4 linked regions of the Homo sapiens genome follow. The protein of the gene in region 1 purifies or fractionates together with the protein of each later gene. This does not show direct contact. Each region holds a gene or a part of one and is shown in the gene's direction. Other genes may lie near its edges. The genes, in order: TLR2, USP33, STAT5A and BMPR1A.

What was found.
Region 2: the proteins of TLR2 (region 1) and USP33 purify together in Homo sapiens (affinity purification with mass spectrometry; 2 studies listed by BioGRID and IntAct, with this or other methods). This does not show direct contact.
Region 3: the proteins of TLR2 (region 1) and STAT5A purify together in Homo sapiens (affinity purification with mass spectrometry; 2 studies listed by BioGRID and IntAct, with this or other methods). This does not show direct contact.
Region 4: the proteins of TLR2 (region 1) and BMPR1A purify together in Homo sapiens (affinity purification with mass spectrometry; 2 studies listed by BioGRID and IntAct, with this or other methods). This does not show direct contact.

The regions. Positions count from the first base shown.
Region 1 is NC_000004.12:153,679,312-153,687,703, forward strand, and holds the start of TLR2 (toll-like receptor 2 precursor), read left to right. Parts: upstream 1-4,968; 5' UTR 4,969-5,049; exon of another isoform or gene 5,050-8,392. UniProt on the Homo sapiens protein: Cooperates with LY96 to mediate the innate immune response to bacterial lipoproteins and other microbial cell wall components. Cooperates with TLR1 or TLR6 to mediate the innate immune response to bacterial lipoproteins or lipopeptides.
Region 2 is NC_000001.11:77,735,737-77,742,852, reverse strand, and holds part of USP33 (ubiquitin carboxyl-terminal hydrolase 33), read left to right. Parts: intron 1-1,104; coding exon of another isoform or gene 1,105-1,155; coding exon 1,156-1,236; intron 1,237-1,423; coding exon 1,424-1,477; intron 1,478-1,913; coding exon 1,914-1,976; intron 1,977-3,435; coding exon 3,436-3,588; intron 3,589-6,694; coding exon 6,695-6,797; intron 6,798-7,116. UniProt on the Homo sapiens protein: Deubiquitinating enzyme involved in various processes such as centrosome duplication, cellular migration and beta-2 adrenergic receptor/ADRB2 recycling.
Region 3 is NC_000017.11:42,305,309-42,312,901, forward strand, and holds the end of STAT5A (signal transducer and activator of transcription 5A), read left to right. Parts: intron 1-301; coding exon 302-394; intron 395-932; coding exon 933-1,139; intron 1,140-2,093; coding exon 2,094-2,188; intron 2,189-2,284; coding exon 2,285-2,415; intron 2,416-2,869; coding exon 2,870-3,025; intron 3,026-3,738; coding exon 3,739-3,790; intron 3,791-4,068; coding exon 4,069-4,176; intron 4,177-5,198; coding exon 5,199-5,361; coding exon of another isoform or gene 5,362-5,422; 3' UTR 5,423-6,635; downstream 6,636-7,593. UniProt on the Homo sapiens protein: Carries out a dual function: signal transduction and activation of transcription. Mediates cellular responses to the cytokine KITLG/SCF and other growth factors. Mediates cellular responses to ERBB4.
Region 4 is NC_000010.11:86,759,506-86,767,152, forward strand, and holds part of BMPR1A (bone morphogenetic protein receptor type-1A isoform 3 precursor), read left to right. Parts: intron 1-7,647. UniProt on the Homo sapiens protein: On ligand binding, forms a receptor complex consisting of two type II and two type I transmembrane serine/threonine kinases.

The DNA.
Region 1 (8,392 bases):
TTTAAATAACTTTACATTTTCAGATATGTGTTGAAGACCCTACCAGATGCTTTCTTCCCCTTTGAGAAGAAGCAGGAAAAGAAAACTTTCTCTAAAGGGCAACTTGACTCTTTTCACACACTGAAGACTTTGGAAGCTGGTGGCAACAACTTCATTTGCTCCTGTGAATTCCTCTCCTTCACTCAGGAGCAGCAAGCACTGGCCAAAGTTCTTATCGGTTGGCCAGCAAACTACCTGTGTGACTCTCCATCCCACGTGTGTGGCCAACAGGTTCAGGACGTCTGCCTTTTGGTGTCGGAGTGCCACAGGGTGGCACTGGTGTCTGGCATGTGCTGTGCCCTGTTCCTGCTGATCCTGCCCATGGGGGTTCTGTGCCACTGTTTCCACAGCCCGTGGTACATGAAAATGATGTGGGCCTGGCTCTAGGCCAAAAGGAAGCACAGGAAAGCTTGCAGCAGGGACATCTGCTATGACGCATTTGTTTCTTATAGTGAGCAGGATGCCTACTGGGTGGAGAACCTTATGGTCCAGGAGCTGGAGAACTTCAATCCCCTCTTCAAGTTGTGTCTTCATAAGTGGGACTTCATTCCTGGCAAGTGGATCATTGACAATATCATTGACTCCATTGAAAAGAGACACAAAACTGTCTTTGTGCTTTCTGAAAACTTTGTGAAGAGTGAGTGGTGCAAGAAGGAACTGGACTTCTCCCATTTCCGTCTTTTTGATGAGAACAGTGATGCTGCCATTCTCATTCTTCTGGAGCCCATTAAGAAGCCATTTGCCTTAGTCAATCTGGGCTGCTATAGCAAAAATGCCAATAGACTGGGTAGTTTATAGATAAGAGAAATTCATTTCTCACAGATCTAGAGGCTGGGAAGTCCAAGATCAAGGTGTTGGCAGATTTGGTATCTGGTGAGGAACTCTTCCAGGCTCAAAGATAGCTGTCTTCTCACTGTGTTCTTGGTGGTGGAAGGGGTGAGGGAACTCTCTGAAGTTTCTTTTGGAAGGGAACTAATCCCATTCATGAAGCTTCTGCCCCCATGACCTAATCACTCATCAAAGGGCCCACCTCCAGTACCTCACATTGGGGGTTAGGATTTCAACAGATGAATTTCAGGAGGACACAGGCCTTCAGTCTATGGCTAGGATCATTCCCCAGCATTTCTGTTAAGCTGCAGAAGATAATTAACACCTAGACCTGCCTGGAGTGGCCACTAATGAAGCTCAGCGGGAAGGGTTTTAGTTAAAGAAAACTCCTAGTTTTTAGTTCGACCATTGTGGAAGACAGTGGTGATTCCTCAAGGATCTAGAACTAGAAATACCATTTGACCCAGCCATCCCATTACTGGGTATATACCCAAAGGATTATAAATCATGCTACTATAAAGACACATGCACACGTATGTTTATTGCGGTACTATTCACAATAACAAAGACTTGGAACCAACCCAAACGTCCATCAATGATAGACTGGATTAAGAAAATGTGGCACATATACACCATGGAATACTATGCAGCCATAAAAAAGGATGAGTTCATGTCCTTTGTAGGGACATGGATGAAGCTGGAAACCATCATTATGAGCAAACTATCACAAGGACAAAAAACCAAACACTGCATGTTCTCACTCATAGGTGGGAATTGAACAATTCCCACCTGGACACAGGGTGGGGAACATCACACACCAGGGCCTAACGTGGGGTGGGGGGCTGGGGGAGGGGTAGCATTAGGAGAAATACCTAATGTGAATGACGAGTTAATGGGTGCAGCACACCAACATGGCACATGTATACATATGTAACTAACCTGCACGTTGTGCACATGTACCCTAGAACTTAAAGTATAATAATAATAAATAAAACATATCAAAAAAAAGAAAAATGAGCTTGGGAGTCATCATGCCTCCTGCTCCCTTCCCCTGCCCCCAGCCCCCAGCCCCACTTCTGGCTGGGACCTTTGAAGAGTGCAGTTCCCTCTTCCCCATAATTCATTCTGTCCATCTACTCATTCCAACACACTTTTTGATCTGATTTCTATGGCTCAGCTCCAAGGTGCTTGCCTCAGTCCCCTGGCCCGCAGGAGCCCACAAAAAAAAAAAAAAAAAAAAACTCCTAGTTTTTAAAAGGGAAATATATACAACATGAAATATTCTGTTTTCAGAACTTGGTTCTATGTTAACTTAGAAGTTTACTACTATTATTTTGCATAGGCAATATTTTTGAAATGTCTTAAAAAATTACGGACATACGGACATCTGTGCAGAGTAAAAAAATTTTGAAGAATGTATGTTCATGTATAAAGATCTGTAAAATAATGCAGGATTTATGGCATATTTTCATTAAGTGGTTTTCGGTGGATGAGTTTCTTATTATTTCATCTGACAATTACAATATACTTTATGTGAAAAAGACATAGACTGTGTGTTTTGTTTTGTTTTTTCGAAACAGAGTCTCACTCTTATCTCCCAGCCTCAACACACTGGACTCAAACGATCCTCCAACCTCAGCCTCCTGAGTAGCTGGGGTTACAGCTACAAACCATCATGCCTGGCTAATTTTTGAATTTTTGTAGAGATGGGGGTCTCCCTGTTTTGCCCAGGCTGGTCTCAAACTCCTGGACTCAAGATCCTCCTGTCTTGGGCTCCCAAAGTGCCGGGATTACAGGTGTGAACCACCACGCTGGCCTTGTGTTTTCGGATAACTTTCAGATAACAGCTTAGGATTTCAGTTAGATGCTCAAAACTATGAATATATACAATGAAAGTTACCCTTTCCCCAAATATTAGTACATTTCATATGCCGTGTTGATTTTCTAACTTTAATCAACATTTTTCTTTTTTTTGGTAGAGAGTTATAGGAGGTCTTATATCTAGATACAGAAGGAGACTTGGAGTCTAACCTGGGATTTGCCACATGTTAACTGTGAGCCATGCGACTCTGGGCAAGTTCCCTAATCACTTTAACCAAAGGAATAGTAATATCAGAATTATTTATTGCATGTGTTATTGTAAGATTCAGATGAAATTCTAGATGTGAAGGTGCTTCAAAAATGTCAAGAACTAGGCCGGGTGCTGTGGCTCACACCTGTAATCCCAGCACTTTGGGAGGCCTAGGCTGGTGGATCACTTGGTGCCAGGAGTTCAAGACCAGCCTGGTCAACATAGCAAAACCCTGTCTCTACCAAAAATACAAAAATTAGCCAGGCGTGGTGGCACGCACCTGTAATCCCACCTACTTGGGAGGCTGAGGCAGAGAATTGCTTGAATCTGGGAGGTGGAGACTGCAGTGAGATGAGATTGCACCACTGCACTCCAGCCTGGGTGACAAAACGAGACTCCATCTCAGAAAAAAAAAAAAAAAAAAAGAAAATGTCAAGAACTGAACAAGTATAAGGACTGTGTCTGAATTGGACGTGCTAATAGCTTTGTGGACAGTGTACAACTACCTTCAATATATGCAGAGGACACTGATTTGTGGCTAAATAAATGATTTCTATCTGACTTTGCCAGACAATTCTAATTGACTTTGGGATTATAGAGCAATAGCATCAAAATCCACCTTAGGCAGTTCAACTAGGGAAGAGAAATAGAGAAAAAACAAGTTTTTAGTTTCAGGAGAAATAATTTGAAGGAAGTTTTCTTTTGTCAGAAATCACAAGGTAGAGAGCTGGAGATTTGGAATTAATAAGAAAGCATTTTCAGCCAGCTGGACAACCTGATGGTCAGGATAAAGAAAAATAGTAAGATAGTGACCTGTATACAAAAACCTCTCAATTTCATATTTAGGTCTATTGATTAAGTTTCCCTGATGTTCCAACCATCAGAGAGGATTAGGGATGTGGAACAGGGTAGGAGAAACAGCCCTGGATTTAAGGTAAAATTCTGGTTTCAAATCTCAGTTCTGTCATATGTTATACAATTCACATGACATTTTCTTGTGTAAGGGAGGAACAAGGATGCTTGCTCTGCTTCATATCTCACTTTGTGAAAATCAAATGTAATTATGAACATAAAAGGTAGATTATTAACATTAAGGCAGTTGAATTTTAAAAGCTTGTTTTCTTCCCTTATACATATTCCTAACCGTGGAGACAGCTAGGTTCTGTGGCAATGAAGAAAATTGATCAATGACTGTTTTTGGTATTACTTTGGGAAGTAGGGATGGAATAGGGGCAAGGGAAGGGCTTAGCTTCAAACTGTAGACAGAAGTGGGAAGCCCAAATCTTTGCATGGTGAGAAGTGGGATGGAATGTAGGTGCTAGAGATGGTGCACCAGTAGGGACTGTCACTGGATTGGGGAAAAAAATCCGGGGCTGTCCTTATCTGCTCCCTTAGGCAAAATCGTTCTGTGTTAGTCTGGAGGGTGAACCTATTTTAATGCAGGAGGGCATAGACTTTTGGGTGGAAGCGGACCCTGGAGATGTACTGGCAGGTGAATAGAGTGTGGAAAAGTGGGGAAAGGAGAAGCACGATTCATGAGCCTGAGTTCGGGCTTCCATGGATGGAAAAGCATCAGGAGTGGAATTTAAAGACGGTGTGTTTCAGGTGATGTGAGGTCCTGGATGCCCGAAGCTTCAAGAAAATACTGGTTGGGCACTTAGCTTTCCCTGTGGTTGCCAATCCCACGCAGGCCGCCTCTAGCGTCTCGATTCGCTTTTCTCTGACCTGGAACCTCCGCCAAGCCCCCAGCTCTCTTCTTCGACCCAGCCTTGCACGGGGCAGCTGTCGGGGCAGGACCCGCCTCTGGCCTGTCGCAGCCTAGCTCACGGTCAAGGGCGGGAGCCTGCTGGGAAGCACGGCCGCGGGGGCTCGCTCGGGGCCACCTGCCTGGAACTCAGCGCGAGGTCCAGAGTTCCCTCCGGCTGCGCAGCGGCGCACGTGCCCCGTGGAAGGGGCGGTTCCCGCACCCCAGAAGGAGGGGGCGCCCGGCCGCGCGGACTTTCCCTTTTGCTTACTTCCTAGTCCCGGGCAGGCCGGCTCGGAGGCAGCGAGAAAGCGCAGCCAGGCGGCTGCTCGGCGTTCTCTCAGGTGACTGCTCGGAGTTCTCCCAGGTACGTCGTGCGCTCCCCACTCGTGTGGTCTCTCTGCACCCCTTCCTGGGGTCGGGTCGGGCAGGGGCGGAGGGGAGCCGCAGCCCGGTCACGGGCTCTGGGGAACCCGGGCTCCCGTTCGGCTGCACCTGGGCCCCTAGCTCCTGTCCGGGCGGGGATAGCGGGAAGCGCACCAGGCCCCCGGGACGCCGGTGCTTCTTTGCACGGCCCAGCGCGGGAATGTGGACACCAGCGAAGCCGGCTCAGGTCGGCCCTCGGGAGAAGCAGGGGCTACACGGAAAGGGAGCCCGAGGGTCCTGCAGAGCCCGAGGTCGGGACCCCGCGCGTGCAGTGCCAATGGGCTGCGGCTGGGCTGAGCGCCCTTCCAACCTTGCAGGCCCCGGGGGGGTTGCCGCGGAGAGCTTCCGCTGGGGCTCCGGGCCTCTGGCCGCCACCTCCCTCGGGAGGCCGAGGGGGGCGGTGGCCCCGGCCCGGCCCTCCCGCTTCCCTCACGGCCTGGCCCTCCCGCTTCCCTGATTCCCGGTAGGGTCGCTCTCCCCGCCTCCTGGCCCCTCTTGGCTCGGATGACAAAGATTGGGTAAAGGCTTTCAACGAGCTAGCGTCTGGCAGGGGGTGTGTCCTCGCTCACTGGTTACTGCTAGGACGGAGCTTGGATTTTGGTCACCGTGGCTCAGAGGTGGGAAAGGTTCCGTGCTCTGGGTCTGTCCAGGACCCTGGCTCCCTAACCCAAGTCTGACCTCTGCTCCCTGGCAGGCTTCGCCCCACCTCTGCGTTCCTTCATTCTTAGGATGTGTGAGTTAGGTCTCTGATTAGAAAACAACTTACAGCGTTTAAGCAAAGTCGAGTCCTTCAAGTAAGAATGCTTTGAAGTGCCCTTTACAACTTCTTCAACTTCTATAAATATGAACTTGTGTTTAGAACTTAAATGCAAGCCAGGAAAGTCTTTTTCCTGTTTGAAAGAGAGAGAAAGAGAGAGAAAGAGGTGATTGGAAGTGGTGGGTGGGGGCGGAGAAAGAGAAGGAGAGTAATCTGGGTGTAGACAACTCAAAGTTTGCTGAGATGACTTTAATCTTTTGACTCTGTTATTAAGATTTTTACCAAAGAGCAACTGTAGCTATGGTGGCCTGACTTGAAGGGACAGACCAAACAAACAACAAAACACAAAACAAAACAAACAAACAACAAAAGCAAGAGCAGAAACTATTGGAAAATGATTTATTCACCAATATTTTAAAGGTTCTTCCTGTTCTAAGCAAGGAACATCTTTAAGTTCTTTATAATGTACCCATTTTACATTTACAAAAACTGCCAGAAGTTGACAGCATGTTTTGGGGGTTTCTAAGCTATCAGTTAATTTTTTGGGGTACAGTTTTATTGATAAACTAACAGAGTAGAAAAAATCTAATGGAATACCCCCAAATTTAAAAGAGGGCAAGAAAAGAGAGACAATAGAACATAAAACAAATGGGACAAGAATAAAGTACATAGTTGTCACAGTCCCTTGGGTGCTGCTGTAACAAAATACCTGAGACTGGGTAATTTACAAAGAACAGAAATTTATCCATTCATGGTTCTGGAGTCTGGGAAGTCCAAGATTGAAGGGCTGCATCTGGTGAGGGTCATCTGGCTACATTATAACATGATGGAAAGCATCACATGGTGAGAGAGAGCAAGAGAGGACAGAACTTACTTTTATAACAAACTCATTCTCACAATAAACTGCTCCCTTGGTGATAACATTAATCCATTTATGAGGGTACAGCCTTCATAACCTAATCACCTCTTAAAAGGTTCCACCTCTCAGCTCGCAGTGAGCCGAGATCATGCCACTGCACTCCAGCCTGGGTGACAGAGCGAGACTCTGTCTCAAAACAAACAAACAAACAAAAATTCCACCTCTCAACACTGTTGCATTGAAGATGAAATTTCCAATACATGAGCTTTGGGGCACACATTCAAACCATAGCAATAGTTCAATTACTTTAAAGCCCAAAATGTCAGTAATTATATTAAATGCAATTTAATACATCAGTAACTAAATGAGATAGACTAAATTTTATGATAATCAGACTAATATTATCAGACTAGACTTCAAAACAACCCAACAATCATATGCTGTTTACAAGAGACACATTTATGGATACTAAAAGGTATAAAGTGAACAGATGCAACCATTTATCAAAAGAAAGCTGTTGTGGCAATATTACTATTAGACAAAATAGAATTAGGAAAAAAATCATAACTGTAGATAAACGTTTCACTAAGTTAAAGGTTTCACTGAGAAGAAATAAAAATTTTGAATTTATAAGTACTTATAACAACATTAAGAAACTAGAAAATAGAAAAAGAATAGAGCCAAATTGACTGAACTAGAAAAATAGAAAATTCATAGAAAAATCCACAATCATAGTGGGAGATTTTATCATACATCTCTCAGTAACTGATAGAAAAACCAGACAAAAATCAATAAGGATAAAGAAAATGCGAACACAATGTAGTTCACATAAGGAACCTATACTACTTCCAACAGCAGCTGAAATCACAGAGCATACTTAAAATCTGACCATATACTGGCTCATAGAGTAAATTGCAATACATTTTAAAGAATTTAAATCATACAGAATATGTCTTCTGACCATAATGCAATTAAAGTAGAAAAGAACAGAAAAACTTATAGAAAATTCTCATATATTTGGAAATTAGTAAATTTCTAAATAACCCATGGGTCAAAAAATAATCAGAATGAAAATCAGAAAATATTTTTAATGACTTATGAAAAAAATTACATATAAAAACTTGTCAGATGCACCTAAACTGTTGCTTAAAGGAAACTTACAACCTTAAGTGCATATATTAGAAATGAAGAGTGACGAAAAATGAATGAGCAAGCAAATACCTTAAAAACTGGAAAAGGAATAGTAAAATAAATCCAGAGAAATCAGAACAGGGGAAATAATAATATAAGAATAGAAATTAATGTGCTAGAAAATAGGGGATCTATCAAGTCAGAAGTTGATTTTTTGAAAATGCTAATAAAAATGATGAACCTCTGGCAAGACAATAAAAGCTGGTACAAATAACTCATCTAAGGAATAAAATTGAGGACCTCTCTTTTGTTAAATGACATAAGCAGGAGGCCATTATCCTGAGACTGTCTCTACACTTTGAGTTCTTACATAATAAACTGCAACCTAATTTAGTATACTACATAAACAAACTGAAACCTAACTTAGGAGCTTTTTTTTTGTAATTAATAGCTAAATTTCCACCAAATCATAAATAGCCAAGCTTTAGCCAATCACAGGCAGCCAACTGATCAGACTATGCCCAAACAAGGTAAATG
Region 2 (7,116 bases), on another chromosome or scaffold:
AACTATTACATAGACCTGCATGGTTTATTGAATAACTTATAAACCACAAAGGAAATTAAATTTACAGTGTTTCTGAAGTTCAAACTTTTAAACTGTTTCATTCTATCCTAGCAAGTTCTAAACTTTTTTTGGGAAAGTGTTCTCAAACCTCAAAGTTGAATTAAGAGCATGAAAAGCCCTGTTATTAAAAAGGTACAACCAAAAGATCTAGGAATACCAAATTAGACTTGAGACCTTTGGAAATCACTCGCTTTACTTGAACCAAACACTGTGGATCAGTAAAGTTTGCATCTCTTAGCCTTATGTGCAAATGAAGCTAATAATGGTGCCTATTTCAGGGGTTGTAAAGATCATGAAAATGGGGTTCTCAAACCTGGAGAGATTTTGTCCCCCAGAGGGTATAATTTAAAACAGTCTAGAGACACTGGTCATCAGAGTTCAGAGTGGTGGCAGGGATGGTCTGTCTGTCTCTTGTGGATAGAAGTGGGAATGTTGCCAAATAACCTGCAGTGCACAGGACAATCCCTCACAGCGAAGAATTATCTGGCCCTAAGTGTCAATAGTGCCGGGATCGAGAAACCCTGATATAAAGTGCTTATCCTGGTATAAGGCCAGGATACCAGATGATTTAATTTATGCCATCAGTAGGGGGTCCTATTAGTAGAAAAATGAAGCTTTCTACTTGAAGTTTTTTTTTTTCAACTCCTAGTCCAGCCTAAGGATTAATTTTTTTTTTAAAAGGATAAAAGTGCTTCACAGTTGAATAACTTGAATATTCCCCCCTTTTATTTATCTATAAAAAGTGAAATGAGAGGGGAAAAGCAGCAAAAGTCATGGAGAAACAAACTTACATTTGTTTATAGATGTCAATTTTAATAAAATGTTTATGTAGTAGAGAAATTTCCAGTGTTCAGATTAACTTCAATTCTGAAAACTCATCTATGTTTGAGAATACACTCTTTTTACAGGGCAAACTTATATCATTCTTATGTTATCTTTTAATCATTTTTAATATGTTAACATTTTAATTTTTTTATTTTTTGGAATCTTTGCAGGCATTGTAAGCATTTATTAATTTTTTTGTGTGTGTTACTTTTCTTATAGGTGTTACCTCATTTTGAAAGTCTTGGGAAACAGGAAAAAATTCCTAACAAAATGTCAGCTTTTCGAAATCATTGTCCACATTTGGATTCAGTTGGTGAAATAACAAAAGAAGATTTGATACAAAAATCCCTTGTAAGAAACAGGTTTTTTCTTCCTTGAAAAACTATTCACTTTTCTCTTGAATGTGTAATTTTCATAAATTACTGTAATACTCTATGAGCAGTATTTTAAAAATATGTATGATGTCATTAGTGCATTAGTGAATTGTATGTGTTTGTGTCAATATAACCAATGTTGTCTTTTTAATTTCTTTTTATAGGGTACTTGTCAGGATTGTAAAGTCCAAGGACCAAATCTTTGGGCATGTCTGGAGGTGTGTATATGTTTTTTCCTGAAAAGATTGCTATAATAATAATAAATTTGGATCTGAATAATCATAACCAGAAAATTTTTGATACTTAAAGTGATTTTTGTAAATTAAACTTGCTTTTAAAAGGTCATTATTAATAACAAAAATTAAACTTTGGAAAGATCTTAATCTGTAGTGCTTTTGTAGTTTTTAGTAAATCACTCAGCTATTTTATGCTTGCCTTTTATTAGAAATGACATAGCTTTTAGCTTAGAAATATATCCTGGTTTTATTTTGTGCCTGGAAACATTTGGTTAAATTTAATGACTGGAAAGTCATTTACTCATTGAATGTAAAACAGGTAATCCAAACTTAATTGTAAATGTAATTGTAATGCTGTTATAAATTTACATGTATATTATAAAGTACCTTATTTTTCTTCCTATATAATTATTTATAGAATAGATGTTCATATGTTGGCTGTGGTGAATCACAAGTAGATCACAGCACCATACATTCTCAGGTATGTATATAAAAAATTTAATGGAAGACTTGTTAAAAAAAGTGCCTGAAGGAAAGGGAAAGCCAGTATAACATTATTAATTCAAGTTGTAATTCAAATTTGCACTCTAAGTTAAAACTTCACTTACATTCTCTGTGAAGGATGGGGAAGGGAATTGCTAGGAGGATGAACATTAGAATGAGGTTGTGATTAAGAAAGCACTGATTTCAAAAGTGTACATCCGGCCAGGCATGGTGGCTCACGCCTGAATCCCAGCACTTTGGAAGGCCAAGGCAGGTGGATCACCTGAGGTCAGGAGTTCGAGACCAGCCTGGCCAACATGGCGAAACCCTGTCTCTATTAAAAGTACAAAAAAATTAGCTGGGTGTGGTGGTGGGCACCTGTAATCCCAGCTACTCGGGAGGCTGAGGCAGGAGAATTGTTTGAACCTGGGAGGCGGAGGTTGCAGTGAGCCGAGATCGTGCCATTGCACTCCAGCCTGGGCAACAAGAGCGAAACTCCATCTCAAAAAAAAAAAAAAAAGTGTATATCCAGATATTTGAAGGTGATAGCTGGCATATTAGGAGGTTGAAGCCCAAGAGAGAGTGGGTGCTTAGGTTTATGACATGGCCTGGCTAACTTCTTTAAGTCTCAGCTCATGTCATATTGCCTTTTCCTGCACATAGTCCTAACTGGACTCACCTTTCTGCTTTGCTCTGGTTGTTTGGTACTTCCCATGTAACTCTGGCATGCCTCTTCTATAGTGTTATGTAGAGCTCCCATTCTAAATGGAAAGTTTCTCGAATGACTTTGTTTTAAGATGCACATTGATACCTCTACAGCATCAACTGTTCTCAACCAGGATTCCTCTATAGAATTAATTAAGCCTGAATACCCAAGCTCTGAGTCATCATTGTATATCATTTGCCTCTTTCTGTGCATCTAAGATGGTATTTGCTGTGTACCACCATTGGGAGAATTGATAAATTAGTCACTCAGATCATTTTTTGTAGGGCTTAATTCTGTAGCAGAACTCTGGTTGTGAAAGGCTAGACTTTTATCTTTCCAAGATTATATATTCTGTATTGCTAGAGCTGTTTTATGCCTTGACTCATGTCATTTGTGTTCTTTTGCCATTCTGATTTCTTAGAATAGTTACTTGCTATTGTTAATTATTTTCTTGTGTTATATTTATTTGTAGACTGCAAAGCAAGGTCTTACACTCTTGCGTTTATCTTTTTGTATAATGAATAGTGAGGGGAGAATGGCAGAGTAATTTCTAGAGTAGGCTTAGATGTTGTTACTGTTTATTATACCTTAGAAGTTTATCTAAAGAATTTTTTTCATGTTCTAAATTAGCTTTTGAGTATATTGTTACTCATCAAAGGCAAGCAGTTTATCTTCTGTTATCTTTTGAAGAAGTCTTTTCAAGTATATGTAATTTTGGTTCCTCTTTTCCCTCTACTGTGAAATTATATAGGAGACAAAGCATTATCTAACTGTGAACCTTACCACTCTTCGAGTATGGTGTTATGCTTGCAGCAAAGAAGTATTTTTGGATAGGAAATTAGGAACTCAGCCTTCATTGCCTCATGTAAGACAACCTCACCAAATACAAGAAAACAGTGTCCAGGTAATAATCTAGATCCACTTAGTTAAGCTGTAAAACATTCCGGTAATAATTTCAGAATTTGTCATGTAGCTGAAATTTTCAAAAGGAATACTGCCTAACCTGTACTTTGAAAATTTCTGTAATGTGCCTTTTTTCTCTCAAATAAAGCACTCAGACTCCCCTTTCTTGTGTTGCTTAGAGTGCTAGATTAGGGTGAGATTGAAGCCCACCTGTTTGAAGATGGAAAAGGCCCTAATGAATTTTTGAAGTTTTTTTTTTTAAATGACTCAAGTAGTCTTTATCTTTTTCTGGTAAGTCTGATTTCAAGAAAGGTGGTGGGCCTTCTTTGATAGCATATGGCAGTTACTAATTCAGCTCTCTTCCCCGTTCTCTCCTCCCCTCCATCCCCTTTGTATTACTGTGAACATTTTACTTATTATTGACAACAAAGTAGAATATAATAAAGCTTAGCATCAGTCTTTGGGTTAAAGATTTTTCTCCCTTTGGGCTGGGTGCGGTGGCTCACGCCTGTAATCCCAGTGCTTTGGGAGGCCAAGGCGGCTGGATCACGAGGTCAGGAGATCGAGACCATCCTGGCTAACATGGTGACACCCCGTCTCTACTAAAAATACAAAACATTAGCCGGGTGTGGTGGCGGGCACCTGTATTCCCAGCTACTTTGGAGGCTGAGGCAGGAGAATGGCGTGAACCTGGGAGGCAGAGCTGGCAGTGAGCCGAGACCTTGCCACTGCACTCCAGCCTAGGTGACAGAGTGAGACTCCATCTAAAAAAAAAAAAGAAAAAAAGATTTTTCTCCTTTTGGATCAAGAGACTTAGAAAACACATGGGTTTGCTTGCAGAATTTATCACTTAATTTTCAGAATTCTTAAAGTCATAGAAAAATAGGAAAAAGGAAATTAACTTAGAATAGTTGGCTTCTTAATCAGATCATCAGTTGATCAGAATTTGATCAGATTTGATTAACAGCAAGTTTTTTTCCTCATGTGTGTTATAGAAATCACATATTTCTGTACTTGTTCATTGATACCAACTGTCAGGTTTTTCTGTTGTATGTTTGTATCACATTCTTATGGTAGATATTTGTGATAATAAATTTGCTTGCCTTACACATGAAAGATGGCTAGATTTTAGTCAAAGAATAATTTCTTGCATTTTCAGTTTCTCAGTTGAATGGCTCTAGTTAATTATAACCATTACTGTTTCTCCCACTTATACCTATTTATCATTCACAAACATGTTTAGTCTTTTTCAAAAGTCCAGATAGTATGAAAATGGCCGTTTCGTTGAATCCTCTTACATTATTAACAAAAGTTTGTCCCACTGAAGATAGCTGAATGGTAATAAGTAGAAAAAGTTTTAAAAAAGAAAAAAGTGTAATGTTATGACTAAAGTTTAATCACACAAGGAACTAATAATATATAAAGGCAAAACTATCAGCATCACTTACTAGAGAAGTAAGTTAAATAAGCTATCTGTTGCCATTTCTGCCAGAAAAGATCAAGATTACAAACTTTAATAAATGTTGAATCTGATAGAATAAGTATACTGATACTTTCCTGATGGCTTGTTAATAATTTTCTGATGACTTGTAAATATGTTAACACATAAAAGGCATAAACTTAATTTCATTCAACTTCCTTATGATCCCATTGTTGAAGAAATTATTCAGAAGAAAACAGTGGTTCAGATAGATTTCTTTAGTGGTCCAAAACTTATATGCTGTTGAAATCCAGTTTACCACAGGATATTTGCAAAATAGTAAAATATTGGAGGCCATGCAAATATTAATAAGATTTTTCAAATAGACATTTTTTCTAGATAGTAAAATTTCAGGTGATTTAAGCCTCTGTACTTCTGTGTATTTAGATATTTTGTAGTGAGCATGTATCTTTTTAAAAGCAATTACTTTATGAAAACAAAATGAAAGTATGAAGTCCACTCAAATGTCCAGTCTCTACAGATGTCAGGAAAGTAAAATCGTTGGGAATTAGTGCATATGCCTGCATTTTAGAGGTAAAGTAAGGCTATAATAACTTGGAGAACCAGAGTACATGCTAAATTCTTTCTGCTATTCAGTTTCCTTCTCTGTTTGGGTGTTGCTGAATGTTGGTTCATTGTAGTTCAATCTTCTGATATTACAAGAGAACTTTCAAATTTTGATTTTTATTTGTCGTCTCCGAATTTTTTAAACTTTAGCTCAAAGTTTTTTTCGTTTTTTTTTTTAAAGTGTTTACTAGCATTTGGCTAACAGGTTATCAGTTGCAACCTCTGAGTCAAGCCAATTGTTGGAAATTAATATTAGAATATTATTATTTAAAGTAAGTGCTTGAACTATTTAATATACGTAAAAGTGTGCAGGCCGGGTGTGGTGTCTCACACCTGTAATCCCAGCATTTTGGGAGGCCGAGGTGGGCGGATCATGAGGTCAAGAGATCAAGACCATTCAGGCCAACATGGTGAAACCCCTTCTCTACTAAAAATACAAAAATTAGCTGGGCGTTGTGGCATGCACCTATAGTCCCAGCTGCTTGGGAGTCTGAGGCAGGAGAAGCGTTTGAACCCAGGAGGTGGAGGTTGCAGTGAGCTGAGATCGTGCCACTGCACTCCAGCCTGGCAACAGAGTGAGACTCTGTTTCGGAAAAAAAAAAGTGTGCAAAGTAAATACAGTAATAAGTATCAGGAGAGATTGTAGAAGTCTATAGATAATGTGTTATGATGAAAAACTTTTGCCTTTTTCCCTGTTGAAAATGAGATCTGAGAAGACAGTGTAGGATAGTATCCTTCGGAGATCTTTTTAGCTATGGTTTACTGTCACATAATTGCAGTTATTGTGGAGTTTTAATTCAGAAAATTCGGTTGTAAAAAGTGCCTTTTTAACTCAAATATATATGTTAATAAAGCGGGACTGACATGCTATTACCCTAGGGTTTTATTTCCTTCAAAATATAAATGTAAGTTTAATTGCTAATACCACAAATTCTTATGGTTCCACTATTAAAATAACATCTCAATAATTTTTATGGTATAGATGTTATATAAGTTACAATTAAAACTTTTTTTAAATTTAAGGATTTGTTCAAGTGTGCTATCTTTTTTTGTTATCAAGGATTTTAAAATACCCAGTAATACAACATTAAAAACTCCTCTGGTTGCCGTATTTGATGATCTGGATATAGAAGCGGATGAAGAAGATGAACTTAGGGCCAGAGGTAAATTAATCCTGTGTAACGCTTCTTTGTATGGCACTGCCCATTTCTTTAGAAAACCATATAATGTAAAAGTTTCAAAATGTGGAGGTAAAATGGGCTTGATAATTAAAACAAAAGGACTCTGAAATTTGGCCTAGTAAAATTTTATTTGCAAAACAAACTTTTGGTTTCTCTGGTGTCAGTTTACCAAAGGTAGGATCCTACTTACTCTTTTGCAGTTGAGCCTTATGATCTTTTTGTTTAACTTGCCTTTTGAGGTCTGTTTGAACAGTGTTTCTCATTTTTCTATTGTCAGTGATGGGGAGGTATTAGGTATAAA
Region 3 (7,593 bases), on another chromosome or scaffold:
CCTGACCAACATGGAGAAACCCCGTCTCTACTAAAAATACAAAATTAGCCAGGTGTGGTGACACATGCCTGTAATCCCAGCTACTTGGGAAGCTGAGGCAGGAGAATCGCTTGAACCCGGGAGGCAGAGGTTGTGGTGAGCCGAGATTGCACCATTGCACTCCAGCCTGGGCAACAAGAGTGAAACTCCATATCAAAAAAAAAAATACATAAAAAAAAATAAAGCAGATTGGGCATGTTGCCTAAGCAGAGGGCACGTGGTGGTCACGCCCCATCAACTTGGGTTCCTTTGACTCCTGTAGACTCTGTCCCTACCTGTGGTTGTCATCGTCCACGGCAGCCAGGACCACAATGCCACGGCTACTGTGCTGTGGGACAATGCCTTTGCTGAGCCGGTGAGTCCCCGTGGGAGCCCTACCCCAGCACCCCCAGGCCCTAGGACTCACCTGGGGTCAGCCCCACCCCTTGGGCCCCTGCTGAGTGGTCCTTCCTCACCCCAGGGCCAGCCCAGAGGTGAGGTGAGGCCAGAAGGGCTGGGGTGCTGGGCGCCTGCCTTCCACCATGGCCTTGGCACTCTGGGTTCCAGGTTCCTGGACTGGGGTCTGTGAGGACTGTGAGCTTGGTCTTTGGATCCTGGTCTGGGATCCTCCTTTGGCAGATGGCTTGGGTCCTTGCTCTCTGTTTTCTGTTTCCTGGTCTGCATCTCTGTCCCTGCATGCCCCCACCCCCTGCATCGGTTTTCTTCCCTGCAGGCTGGGAAAAAAAGTGCAAGCTAGTATATAAAAGCCGCCGCATTTCCTGCCCTTGCATTTGTGTCACCTTTCTGGATCTGTCTCAGTCTCCTCTGTCTCTAGGTGTCTGTGTATCTTGTGTGTGTGTGAATATTTCCAACTCCCTCAATCTACCTTTTCCCCTCTCTTGTCTCCCTCTCAGGGCAGGGTGCCATTTGCCGTGCCTGACAAAGTGCTGTGGCCGCAGCTGTGTGAGGCGCTCAACATGAAATTCAAGGCCGAAGTGCAGAGCAACCGGGGCCTGACCAAGGAGAACCTCGTGTTCCTGGCGCAGAAACTGTTCAACAACAGCAGCAGCCACCTGGAGGACTACAGTGGCCTGTCCGTGTCCTGGTCCCAGTTCAACAGGGTGAGGGGCCCAGCTGCCAGCCGCCCACCAGGGCCCACCGGGGTCTGTTGCTCCTCCACCTCACAGACAGGTTACTGCCTGGGGCTAGCACCCCACTCTCCACCCCCAACCACTCTCTCCTACAACCAGGAGAGATGGGGGCCCCTAGCCTCAAGAAATGCAGGCAGGGGCTATAGGAGTTGTGCTTAGTTGTGAAGCCAAGAGCGAGATGACGGAGGGCCCAGGGCTGGGAGTCAGGATCCTTGGGTTCTGGGCCTAGATGTGTTTGCTAATTTTCTTTTTTTTTTTTAGAGACAGAATCTCATTCTGTCACCCAGGCTGGAGTGCAGTGGCGTGATTTCAGCTTACTGTAACCTCTGCCTCCCGGGTTCAAGTGATTCTCGTGCCTCAGCCTCCTGAGTAGCTGGAATTATAGGTGCCTGCCACCATGCTGGGCTAATTTTTGTATTTTTAGTAGAGATGGGGTTTCACCATGTTGGTCAGGCTGGTCTCGAACTCCTGACCTCAGGTGATCCGCCCACCTCGGCCTCCCAAAGTGCTGGGATTACAGGCGTGAGCCACCACGCCTGTGGCTCTGGCTCTCCTTCTGCCTCTCTCCTTGCTAATTTTTGAAGACCCATCCATTCTCTGTGCCTCAGTTTCCCCACCTGTAAAATGAGGGGATGACTTTGGAGGAATGACTTTGGAGGCCCCATCCAGCCTAGATTATTCTTTACACCTCTTACTCCCACCCTTGGGCTGGTCTTGGACCCCTGTGTCTTAGAAGTGAGTTTCCTCTCTGTTTTCCTAGGGTACAAGTTGGGGGCTGTGTCACTTTATGGTCTGCTGGAGTGTGGTGGCAAGCAGGGGTGAAGAACTGGGAGAAGACTGGGTGGGGGCAGGAGGGCCCTGACTTTCCTGGGCCACCTGTGACCTGGGGCACCAGCCCTGACTCGGGGGTTCCTGGGCCCTCAGGAGAACTTGCCGGGCTGGAACTACACCTTCTGGCAGTGGTTTGACGGGGTGATGGAGGTGTTGAAGAAGCACCACAAGCCCCACTGGAATGATGGGTAAGGAACGGGGGCTGCAGGGTCAGGGGCCAGCTGTGGGCGCAGAGAGACTGTGGCTGTGGCCCAGTGGTGACGCTCAATGCTCCGTGCACCCAGGGCCATCCTAGGTTTTGTGAATAAGCAACAGGCCCACGACCTGCTCATCAACAAGCCCGACGGGACCTTCTTGTTGCGCTTTAGTGACTCAGAAATCGGGGGCATCACCATCGCCTGGAAGTTTGACTCCCGTGAGTGCCCGTTTTGCCCACACTCCAGCCCCAAGGCCCGGTCTCTTGTTCCCTTGCCCCGCCACCCCACCCTCCATCGGGCCTGTGTCCTTAGAAGGTACCCAGCGGGAAGCTTAGTATGAGAGGGCTGTGGCTTGGAAATGTATTCTCTTTCTATTGTTTTCCATTTTGGAGAACCTGAAGTCCCCAGCCCCATAGACTCCAGGACGGCTGGGCGAGTCCTCCTGCAGTTTCACGCTCTCCCCTCTCTGCCACGACCCAGCCTTGTTGGTATCTGCTCATCTGGTTTGCTGAGTAGAACATCCCGCATCGGCTTTCTTCCCTACAGGCTGGGGCTGCAGCGCAAGCTACTATATAAAAGCCCAGATTTCTCTTGCAAGCCTGCCCTAAAGCCCCACAACCTTGGTCCTCCTGCTGCTGGTGGATTATGGGAATGAGGCTGTTCTTTTCACAGCGGAACGCAACCTGTGGAACCTGAAACCATTCACCACGCGGGATTTCTCCATCAGGTCCCTGGCTGACCGGCTGGGGGACCTGAGCTATCTCATCTATGTGTTTCCTGACCGCCCCAAGGATGAGGTCTTCTCCAAGTACTACACTCCTGTGCTGGGTGGGTACTGCCCCAGGACCCTGCCGGCTGACTCCCCCGGGCTCTTCCCCAGCCCATAGACAAAGCCTTGGGCTGCGCCGTGGGGACTTCCCCAGGAGGAGCCTAGGGGCCATGTCCCCTGTGGGTTTTGGCCCATGGGGTGGTGGAGAGGATTTCAGGGCTCACAAATGAGGAGAGGGAACGAGAAACCCGTCCCAGCTCTCTTCTCTGCAAAGTGAAAGCTGCATGGATTCTCACTTCTGCACCCTCGGAGGAAGGGGTGGCAGCACTGTAGGGAGTGGCCGGGATCATTCGAGCCCACAGATAGTGCTCCGCTCCCCACCTCACCAGCTGCTCTCCACACCCTGCTCACAAACCTTCCCCCGAGTGGAGTGCAGGCAGCAAAAGGGAGAAGTCTCTCTTCTTCCAGCTGCCCCAAATCCATTGGTTGGGTTTGCTTGTTGATTCTCATTCTTTGACAGGGGTGGGAGCAGGGAGAGGGAAATCAGATGGCCAGAAAAAGAACCAGAAGGAATGGGATTCAAGCCAGGGGTCTCAGTGACCCTCAGGCAGGATTCATCAGCTGGTGTTTATTGGGGGTCCTTGGGAAATCTCATCCCAGCTGAGAACACAAGGTGATGTGAGCAGGAGGGAGACTACATGGGGCGTGGGCTTCCACCCCACTTGGGAGTTCCCAGAGACTTTGGTTCTCACCACTGTTCTTCCCTTGACAGCTAAAGCTGTTGATGGATATGTGAAACCACAGATCAAGCAAGTGGTCCCTGAGTAAGTGTCCAGGTGGCTGTGGCTCTCCTTCTGCCTCTTTCCTCCTCCCCCAGACCCTGCCTCCCATCCTGATCCTGGGCCCAGCTTTCCGCTCCCCCAGGGAACCTGTCTCAGCCCTGGGGAGGGAGTCCCCTCTCCTGTAGCTGGAGCCCCAGGGCCGAGTGGGGCACTTTGTCCGTCTACACCCCGAGAAAGACAAACATGCCCCTCGGTCCCCTCCCCAAGTCAGCTGCCCCGGCCTCCCTGGTGGCTGAAGCTCTGTTCTCTTCCTTCTGCAGGTTTGTGAATGCATCTGCAGATGCTGGGGGCAGCAGCGCCACGTACATGGACCAGGCCCCCTCCCCAGCTGTGTGCCCCCAGGCTCCCTATAACATGTACCCACAGAAGTAGGTGGTGTTCTCATGGGGTCCGCAGGGGAAGAACTGGGGACTTGGCCCCAGGCTGGACTCCTGGAGGGCTGGCGGGCAAAGGATCCAGAGCTCTGGTTAGGCCCAAGTCCAGGAGGAGTGAGATCAGCCAGGAAAACAGAGCATTTTGAAGCTAGACATAGCAGGGTCAAGTCCTCACTCTAGTACTAACTGTGTGATCTTGGGAAAATGATTGAGCCTCTCTGATGCTCAAGTTTCCTTATGTGTAAAACGGAGGCAAGAATGCTTGCCTCATGAGAATGGGATGAGCATTAAACTGAGACAGTGTGGGTGAAGCATTTCCACAGGGAGGGGCTTGGAAGGGCTTGATACAGGGTAGCTATGAATGGGGTGGTTGTTCTTGAGTCTGGTGGGAACAAGGTAGATAATTAATTCCCTTCCTCACTGTGGATAGCCAGGGCTGGATGTCTGGGAGGTACCACCTTCCAGTGGGACCACTGAAGATCCCAGGTTCCAATCCGGACTCCACCACCTCCCAGCCAGGTGGCCCAGAGCAAGCTTCCTGATATGGCCTTGGTTTTCTCGTCTATAAAACGGGGTCAATACCCACTCTCCAGTTGGCTGTAAAAATTGGAGTCATGTGCTCAATAGGCTCAGCTGTTCTAGGTGCTCAGTGAAAAGATTCAGCTGTTCTAAGTGCTCAGTGAACGGGGCGGTGCCTACCATTGCAGCTGAGCATCATTGCAGGTGGGCAGAGCCCACTGTGTCAGCCACCTGGTTTTAAGATGAGGACACGGAGAGGGGAAATGAATTCCCTAAGATTATTCAGTGAGTTAGCAAGAGATGCGAATAGAGTGGGGGTCTGCAGAAGCCAGTGGGCTGACTGCTACCCAGCTTGGGGTGGGGTGGGGGCATCCAGCCAGAACTGGTCCTGTTCTCATGAGACGGGTTTGAGTGGAGAGCAGGCTGGAGGCTGTCCCCAGGGAGCTTGAGGCTGTGAGACATGCCAGCTCCCTCTGACATCCCCCTGTCTTTACCAGCCCTGACCATGTACTCGATCAGGATGGAGAATTCGACCTGGATGAGACCATGGATGTGGCCAGGCACGTGGAGGAACTCTTACGCCGACCAATGGACAGTCTTGACTCCCGCCTCTCGCCCCCTGCCGGTCTTTTCACCTCTGCCAGAGGCTCCCTCTCATGAATGTTTGAATCCCACGCTTCTCTTTGGAAACAATATGCAATGTGAAGCGGTCGTGTTGTGAGTTTAGTAAGGCTGTGTACACTGACACCTTTGCAGGCATGCATGTGCTTGTGTGTGTGTGTGTGTGTGTGTCCTTGTGCATGAGCTACGCCTGCCTCCCCTGTGCAGTCCTGGGATGTGGCTGCAGCAGCGGTGGCCTCTTTTCAGATCATGGCATCCAAGAGTGCGCCGAGTCTGTCTCTGTCATGGTAGAGACCGAGCCTCTGTCACTGCAGGCACTCAATGCAGCCAGACCTATTCCTCCTGGGCCCCTCATCTGCTCAGCAGCTATTTGAATGAGATGATTCAGAAGGGGAGGGGAGACAGGTAACGTCTGTAAGCTGAAGTTTCACTCCGGAGTGAGAAGCTTTGCCCTCCTAAGAGAGAGAGACAGAGAGACAGAGAGAGAGAAAGAGAGAGTGTGTGGGTCTATGTAAATGCATCTGTCCTCATGTGTTGATGTAACCGATTCATCTCTCAGAAGGGAGGCTGGGGTTCATTTTCGAGTAGTATTTTATACTTTAGTGAACGTGGACTCCAGACTCTCTGTGAACCCTATGAGAGCGCGTCTGGGCCCGGCCATGTCCTTAGCACAGGGGGGCCGCCGGTTTGAGTGAGGGTTTCTGAGCTGCTCTGAATTAGTCCTTGCTTGGCTGCTTGGCCTTGGGCTTCATTCAAGTCTATGATGCTGTTGCCCACGTTTCCCGGGATATATATTCTCTCCCCTCCGTTGGGCCCCAGCCTTCTTTGCTTGCCTCTCTGTTTGTAACCTTGTCGACAAAGAGGTAGAAAAGATTGGGTCTAGGATATGGTGGGTGGACAGGGGCCCCGGGACTTGGAGGGTTGGTCCTCTTGCCTCCTGGAAAAAACAAAAACAAAAAACTGCAGTGAAAGACAAGCTGCAAATCAGCCATGTGCTGCGTGCCTGTGGAATCTGGAGTGAGGGGTAAAAGCTGATCTGGTTTGACTCCGCTGGAGGTGGGGCCTGGAGCAGGCCTTGCGCTGTTGCGTAACTGGCTGTGTTCTGGTGAGGCCTTGCTCCCAACCCCACACGCTCCTCCCTCTGAGGCTGTAGGACTCGCAGTCAGGGGCAGCTGACCATGGAAGATTGAGAGCCCAAGGTTTAAACTTCTCTGAAGGGAGGTGGGGATGAGAAGAGGGGTTTTTTTGTACTTTGTACAAAGACCACACATTTGTGTAAACAGTGTTTTGGAATAAAATATTTTTTTCATAAATTTGCTGCTATGGCTCCTGGTTGGGGCGTTGGTGGCCTCCCTGGGTGATGGGAACCCCTGGAGCTGGTTGTTCTGTTCCTTCCCGCGTGCATGCCTGATGCTGTCATTTTTAGTCTTAAATTTTAACTCTGCCCGCTTTGCTGTGGTTTTCAGGGTGCTGGCCACCCCTGGAATACTGTCAATGCTTCTCAGAAGGGTAAGGAGCCAGTTTAGGGGGCACAGATTCCTTAAAAAGCAGGGGACTCGAGGTTTGGGGAAATGATGGAGATGGGCGCGGGTGGGCAGAACTCTGACCCAGGCTTCTCCTTAGCAGCTGCTGCTCCCAGCAGCCTCGAAGCTGGCGGCTGAGGGCCCGGCGCCAAGATGCTTCTCAACCCTCGGGGCCAGGGGCAGTCCCAGAGCCGCAACAACCGTCCCATCCTCCTCCTTCCCAGAGACCAGCAGGTGGCACCACGCGGCTGCGCTGTTTTCAGCTGGCTGCCGGCGACTGTGCGAGGCGGAGGTGCAGCAAGCGGGACCGGCTCGCCCCGGCTGGACCCCCGCACTGCCGGCTGCAGCCAGTCCCTGCTGTCGCTGGGGCCCTTGGGCTCAGGGACGCGCGCTCCCTGGGCGGGGCTGGGAGCCAGGTTTGCGGGCAGGTTCCTTCTGAGCTCAGAGCTCAAGCGAGGGAGAGGGGCGGCGCGTGGGCCCCAAGAGGGAGGTGCAGGGGGCCCAGAGCAGGGGGAAGGCGGGGGTGGGAGAAGAGAGGAGGGGAGGGGACGGGCAGGTGCCACCGCCCCAGGGGGCTAATCTGATCCATCTCTGCGAGGGAAGGTGCTCGCTCGTAGCTCCCAGGCGCGGTCTCCAGGGCGCTGGGGCACGTGTAGGGGTGGGGAGAAGCCCTGTGGGCGCCCGCGTAGCTGAGGTTGGGGCGCCTTTCCCTGCATTATCACCGCTGGCTGCCGGGGGCCCTGCAGCC
Region 4 (7,647 bases), on another chromosome or scaffold:
GTGTTCTTTATTTTTGTTGATGTCATACCAAACCCAAACCTTTTCCCATTTCATCATATCTTGTCTGTAGCCAACATCTGTTGATTCTGCTTTATGATATTGTAACTCTTCTGCTCTCTATTCTTGCTAACTGTGGGGCAATTCTGAATTCATATTGGTGTGAAGGTAGTAGTCAAATCATAAAACGAGTTGGGCAGCTTTCCTTCTTTTTCTCTTTTTCAGGATCATTTTAGACTGGGATTATCTGTTCCTTGAAAGTTTGGAAGACCTCCCCTATGTGACCATTTAGGCCTAGATCTTTTTTCTGGAGAGGACTTTGAGTAACACTTCAATTTCTTTAATAGCTGTTGGTTTGTGTCGATTTTCTGATTCTCATATGAATTTTAATGTTTCACATTTTTTTCAGGAATTTATTTTCAAATCTAGTGTTATTTGGCTTTCACGTAGTTCTCCCCCCACCACCCCGCGACTCCACCCCCACCCCCTAACTCTAAATCAAGTTCTCATCCCACCTGGACTAATGTTATGATTTTCTTGCCTTCACTTTTCTCCTTTATCTAATCTTATGTATTTCTGCCTAAATTAATCTGTAAGCCCAGTTCTTACCACTTCGCCACTCAGAAGTTTCCTAGGTCTTCCATTAAATGAAATATTTTCTGTGGTATTTGCCTCAGATTTACCTGTTTTTTTTTTTTTTTTTTTTTAATACCTTATTGTTTTTTCTTTCTTTCTTTCTTTCTTTCTTTTTTTTTTTTTTTTTTTTTTTGATACAGAGTCTCGCACTGTCGCCTGGGCTGGAGTGCAATGGCGTGAGCTCAGCTCATTGCAACCTCTGCCTCCTGGGTTCAAGGGATTCTCCTGCCTCAGCCTCCCAGGTAGCTGGGACCACGCCTGGCTAATTTTTGTATTTTTAGTAGAGGTGGGGTTTTGCCATGTTGGCCAGGCTGGTCTTAAACTCCTGACCTCAGTTGATCCGCTCGCCTCAGCCTCCCTGTGCTGGGGTTACACAGGTGAGGCACTGTGGCTGGCCTTTATAGCAGTTTTTATACAAATATTAGTTTCACTACTAGTTTGCAGGGTGGGTCTGTAACGGACTTTTCTTGCATATTAAAAGGAATAAATGGGGAAAGGCTCCTGTCTAGCCTAACAGTAGCTGTTGAACTGTCCTGATCTGACTATTGGATCTTAGGAGCAGCGAACCATGGAGAGAAAGGAAAATGGGTTTCCTATCACACTAAATTTTGAAGTAGGAACCATTTCTTTTCCTTTTCTACTTTCCCACCTTTTACTAGTTTTTAGGCTTTAGGATGTCTTTTTAACATCACAAGGTCCATATTGACCAAGTTGGACCAACTTTTTAACACAAGATTAAATGTTGACTTGCATTGAGTTATGTCCATTGTAAGATACACAGTAGTGTTACAGACCACTTAAAATATGCTTCTAGTTGTAAGAAGCCATTGATTGTAAGGTGCACCCCAATTCCGGAGATGCTAAAATATGAAAAATGGATGCATCTTAGAATTGATGAATAGTGTTTCTCTCCCTAATCAAAGCTCTTGGATGTGCCTGGAAATCCCCAGTAGTGTTTTTTGAAAAGAACACTAGTTAGGGGCATAGGGAGATCAGATGATCAGTAGACTCCATCTCAGGGTGGCCCCTGTGGTCCCTAAGCCAGTTCGTATGGGCAGTTTAATATATAACTAATGAGTAGACATTGAATAGATGAGTAAATTATCTTTGAGTATCTTTTATTTACTCTGATGTTGTAGACTTTGTTACTCTTTTATAGTTTTATATTTCTGATGAGCCTTCCTTTCTTATGGCACAGATTTGTTATACTGTTAAAGTCTGGAACAGTGGAGCTTGGCTCTTGATCCAGCTGTATATAATTGGCTGTTGACTTATGAAGGAGGACAGGAGTATGCTAGAGATAGGGATAAAATATTATAATCACATTTGCAGTTAGGGAGATTAGTTACATGTTGGAAAATCATTTTGAAGAAAGGAAGACTGAAGATGTTCAAACTTGTAGGAAGGTCTTTCTGGCCTAGCCCGGATTAAACCCATTTATGCCTAGTGTTCCACTATTGGAACGCTAAGCACGTGGGAGTTATTTATATCCTGCTCAAGGTCATCACCAAGGTCTGATTGCAAAAATTCAAAAAATTGCAGCCTCAGGCATAAATGGGTTAAGATGGTGGCAGATAATTAGGGCCTGGAATGGATAGGAGGCGATAACTAGCGTGGATGAGAGAAGGAATGGGATTGGCAAGAACAACTCCTGGATTTCTAGCTTGGAAAGCAGGGTAGATGTGGGTGACAGATATGAAAAATGAGGTGGGAGAGCTGGTTTGTAGAAGAAAATAGTATTGGATCACATGGAGTTTGAGATATCTGAAACAGCCAAGTAGGGATTTCCACTTGGCAGTTGTCTATATGGGTCTGGGGTTTGACAGAGGTTTGTGCTGGAGGTAGGCATTTGGGAGTCATTGCTGTATAGATTTTATATTCCAACAGTGGGAATTGGGTGGCTCTCTCAAGTGACTCTTGCTTACAAGTGACAGCCCTAACTCAAGTTAGCTTAAAGGAGGGAAAAGCTTCTCCCCACTAACCCCCATGATATTGAAAGGTCTAGAAATAGACATGGCTGGACCTAAGTGCTCAAATGATATAATTAATTGAGGTTGTCTTTTCTGTTCTTCACTTTTGTGGTCTCATTTCAGGCAGGTGCATATATCTGGCAGAGGAAGACATAGGTTATAGGTTATAGAATTACAGGTTATAGGTTATAGACCTCGTATCGAGAACTCCTTGTATGGTCTAGCAAAGAGCCTAAAACAGCATTGAGAATTTTTTTTCTTTCTTTTTGAGACGGAGTCTTGCTATGTTTCCCAGGCTGGAGTGCAGTGGTGCGATCTGGGCTCACTGCAACCTCCGCCTCCTGGGTTCAAGTGATTATCCTGGCTCAGCTTCCCGAGTAGCTGGGTTTAACAGGCGCCCGCCAATACGCCTGGCTCCTTTTTGTATTTTTAGTAGAGACAGGGTTTTGCCTCGTGGGCCAGGCTGGTCTCAACTCCTGACCTCAGGTGATCCTTCCGCCTTGGCCTCCCAAAGTTCTGGGATTACAGGTGTGAGCCACTGCGCCTGGCCAGTCTTGAGAAATTTCAACTTAAGGCCTGGGTAGAGAAGATAGACATTAAATAATTATCTAGTTGTAGTTATGTTAAGATCTACAAAAAGGAAGTCCAGGGAATGTTACAAGACTGATAAGGGAAGCTGGGCTGTTCAGGATGCGGGTACTTTGGAAGGCTTTCCTGAGAAAGGTAGCCCGCAGAGTGAGACCTTAGGCAAGAAAGGACAAGGAGACTGTTTTTGGAAGTATTCAGTAGTATTTATTTATTTATTTGAGACGGAGTCTCACTCTGTCGCCCAGGCTGGAGTGCAGTGGCGTGATCTTGGCTCACTGCAACCTCTACCTCCCGGGTTAAGCGATTCTCATGCCTCAGCCTCCCAAGTAGTTGGGGTCACAAGCGTGAGCCACCACGCCTGGCTAATTTTTGTATTTTTAGTAGAGACGGGGTTTCGCTGTGTTGGTCAGGCTGATCTCGAACTCCTGACCTCGTGATCCGCCCACCTCGGCCTCCCAAAGTGCTGGGATTACAGGCATGAGCCACTGCGCCCGGCCAGAAGTATTCGGTAAAGTGAGCAGTTTTTGCAGCTTTTTAAAAATTTTAAAGGCAATACATCTATTGTGGGTAATTTGGGAAGTATAAAAAGCCATAAAGAAGCAGCGGAATGATTAAGTTTCAGCTTCTAATTTTTTATAAATAATGTCTGATACTGGTTTTACTACTGAGTACCTATTCAATCACGGATGCCACACTAACCCAATCCGAATCTTCGTTTCTTTATCTTAAAAAATAGAAGGAACATGGTGAACTTTAAGATAATTTTTCTGCTTAAAAAAAGAAAAAGAAAGAAAATATCTTGACTTGCAGCACAGTTAGCTGCCGAAATTGAAGGTCATATAATGCTTTTGGTCCTAATGACATCACTGGACTTCTGACTTTTGGCTGAAGAATCACGCCAGCCTTGGCAGTCCTTGCAAGTACCAAAGGGAGTATGGCTTATGCCTGCGGTGCCCTTCCCGTATCCTGCTTTCTTACCTCCTTTTTTGAGCATTAATTTTTTTTTCTTTAGCCTTTGGGTAAAGTATCAAAATGTTGAGAAGATAGACTCTCAATTTTGAAGGTGAGAAATCTGTAGGAGACTTGGATAGTTGTTTTTTTTTTTTTTTTTTTGAGACGGAGTCTCGCTCTGTCGCCCAGGCTGGAGTGCAGTGGCGCATGTTGGCTCACTGCAAGCTCTGCCTCCCGGGTTCACGCCATTCTCCTGCCTCAGCCTCCTGAGTAGCTGGGACCACAGGAGCCCGCCACCACGCCTAGCTAATTTTTTCTATTTTTTAGTAGAGACAGGGTTTCACCGTGTTAGCCAGGATGGTCTCAATCTCCTGACCTCGTGATCCTCCCGCCTCAGCCTCCCAAAGTGCTGGGATTACAGGCGTGAGCCACCACATCTGGCTGACTTGGATAGTTTTGATACTGTTTTATGTATATTAAGATTTGTAGGTAGTTTTCTTACTAGTAATTAAAATGCTTTGTAATGTATTTCAAGAGTATAGGGTCTTGAGTGTTTTAAATTTGTATATAAGAATGTTTTAGATTCCTGGCTAAAAGAAGCTCTTGTTAGAAAATATTAAAGTAAAGGCTGTTAAATTTTGGTGAGGCTCTTAATGTCTGCATTTTTCAAGAATCATTTAAAAATGTCATGAAATAAAAATATTTCAGTGGTAACTGTTCAGAAGTATCTTAAATGTATACCAAATCAATGAAATATAATCGCTGGGTGACAGATTATTCTTCCTTCATTTTATAATCTTTTATTTAATAAAAATGTGGGGGAAAAATTGCATGTTGAAGTTGTACGTGTATATTTTAGCAAAAACTGTTAATCTTTCTGAAGTACTGCTTTGGTCATCATCCCTATTTGTTAAATATTTTTCCCTGTTTTCTTATTTGCTTACAATAGAAAATCCAGAATATCTTGGACTGGTCTCCTGCTCTGGCCAAGTCAGCCTTTTCTGCTTTGCTTCCTTTCCTACTATTTTATCAGCCTAAGTCACGTAAATATCCGATTCAGGTTTGGGTTCAGAATCCTTAGACCTCTACTGTCCACTACAATAGATAGCCACTACCACATGTGGCTGTTGAAGACTTGAACTGTGGCTAGTCTAAGTGTGAATTACGTACCAGATTTTGAAGATAGTACCAAAAGATGTAAAATATCTCATTATGCTTTTAAAATATTGGTTATATAGTGAGATGATACTGTTAGGGATACATTGGATTAAAGAAATATATTAAAACTGATTTTGGCCGGGCATGGTGGCTCATGCCTGTAATCCCAGCACTGTGGGAGGATTGCTTGAGCCCAGCAGCTTGAGACCAGCCTGGGTAACGTGGTGAGACCTTGTCTCAGTTAAAAAAACAAAACTGATTTCACAGGATTCTTTTTACTTTTTAAATGTGGCAACTAGAAAGTTTAAAATTACACGTCATATTGGACAGTACTGCCTTTGACTTTCCTTTCCCTGGTTCTTTGCCCATCAGAATGCTTTAAAATCTAGTATAAATCCTTGGCCAGGTGCTGTGGCTCACGCCTGTAATCCCAGCACTTTGGGAGGCCGAGGCGGGAGGATCACGAGGTCAGGAACTCGAGACCAGCCTGACCAACATGGTGAAACCCCATCTCCACTAAAAATACAAAAATTAGCCGGGTGTGGTGGCACGCCTGTAATCCCAGGTACTCAGGAGGCTAAGACAGGAGAATCACTTGAACCTGGGAGGTGGAGGTTGCAGTGAGCCGAGATTGCACCATTGCACTCCAGCCTGGGCGACAGAGTAAGACTCTGTCTCAAAAAAAAAAAAAAAAAAAAAAGAATATTCCTCTCTCTCCTATGAAGCCCTCCTCAGTGGTCCAAGCCTCATAGTTGGCTCTTTGCTGCATCATTATTTGAAGATAATCTTTTGGTATATTAGATTTCTTTACTACAAACCTTCTCAGAACTTTTAATATGCTAATACACATGGTGAAACTCTAGTATAGTTTCCCTAACTACGTATTACCATAGAACTGTGTGTTTTCTGTTAACAGAAGTTACACATATTTGTGGTTGAAATTTCAAACAATACAGAAATGAAGTAATGAAAGTCTTCTGTAATCATGCTTCACCTGTGCCCCAAGATTGCCACTGTTGAAAGTATAGAGCTAGAAAAAATTTTCTTTTCTGTTGCCTTCTTTCTTTTTTTCTGTCCCCATTTCCTAAAATGGGGTCATACGATACATCCTTATCTTTAAATTTATTTTCACTGAATATATAGGGGGATTCTTTTTATGTCAGTAAATTTCAATTTCCTCATTCTTTTTTTTTTTTTTGAGGGAAGGTCTTGTTCTGTTGCCCAGGCTGCAGTGGTGCTGTGGTGCAAACAGCTCACTGCAGCATCCAACTCCTGGGCTCAAGCAATCCTCCCATCTCAGCCTCCTGAATAGCTGGGACCAGAGGTGCATGCTACCATGCCCAGCTAATTAAAAAATTTTTGTGTGTGTGGAGGTGGGATCTCACCATGATGCCTAGGCTGGTCTCGAACTCCTGGGCTAAAGTGATCCTCCCACCTAGGCCTCCCAAAGTGCTGAGATTACAGGTGTGAGGTGTTGTGCGCAGCCTTAATCATCTCATTCTTTATAGTAGTTAAGCAGTTATTCCATTTTCTGATTATACCTTAATTTTACTTACCAGTTTCGTGTTAATGAATAATTAGATTATTTCCATTTTTTTCTTTTGCATTGCAAATATGCTGTGGTGTTTGTACATATCCTTTGAGACTGTTTTTATTTTATGAAATGAATTCTTAGAAATGCATTTACTATAAGAGAAGCCGTGCAGATTGGATGGAAAGTGCCAAGCCACCCTGCAAAATCTTCGTAACCATTCATATTCCAGCCAACAGTATTTGAATATGTTCTCTCCTCCCAACATAATCATATCAGTCTTTTTTTTTTTTTTTTGAGACGGAGTCTCGCTCTTTCACCCAGGCGGGAGTGCAGTGGCGCTATCTCTGCTCACAGCAAGCTCCGCCTCCTGGGTTCATGCCATTCTCCTGCCTCAGCCTCCCGAGTACAGGCGCCCGCCATCACACCTGGCTAATTTTTTTTTGTATTTTTAGTGGAGACGGGGTTTCACCGTGTTAGCCAGGATGGTTTTTTTTTTTTTTTTGGAGACCGAGTCTTGCTCTGCTGCCAGGCTGGAGTGCAGTGGTGCCATCCTGGCTCACTGCAGCCTCTGCCTCCCGGATTCAAGTGATTCTCCTGACTCAGCCTCCGGAGTAGCTCAGACAACAGGTGCACGTCACCATGTCCAGCTAATTTTTGTATTTTTAGTAGAGACAGGGTTTCACCATGTTGGTCAGGATGGTCTTGATCTCGTGACCTCGTGATCCGCCCGCCTTGGCCTCCCAAAGTGCTGGGATTACAGGCGTGAGGCACCACGCCCGGCCATATCAGTCTGTTTTTATCTTTGCCAGTTTG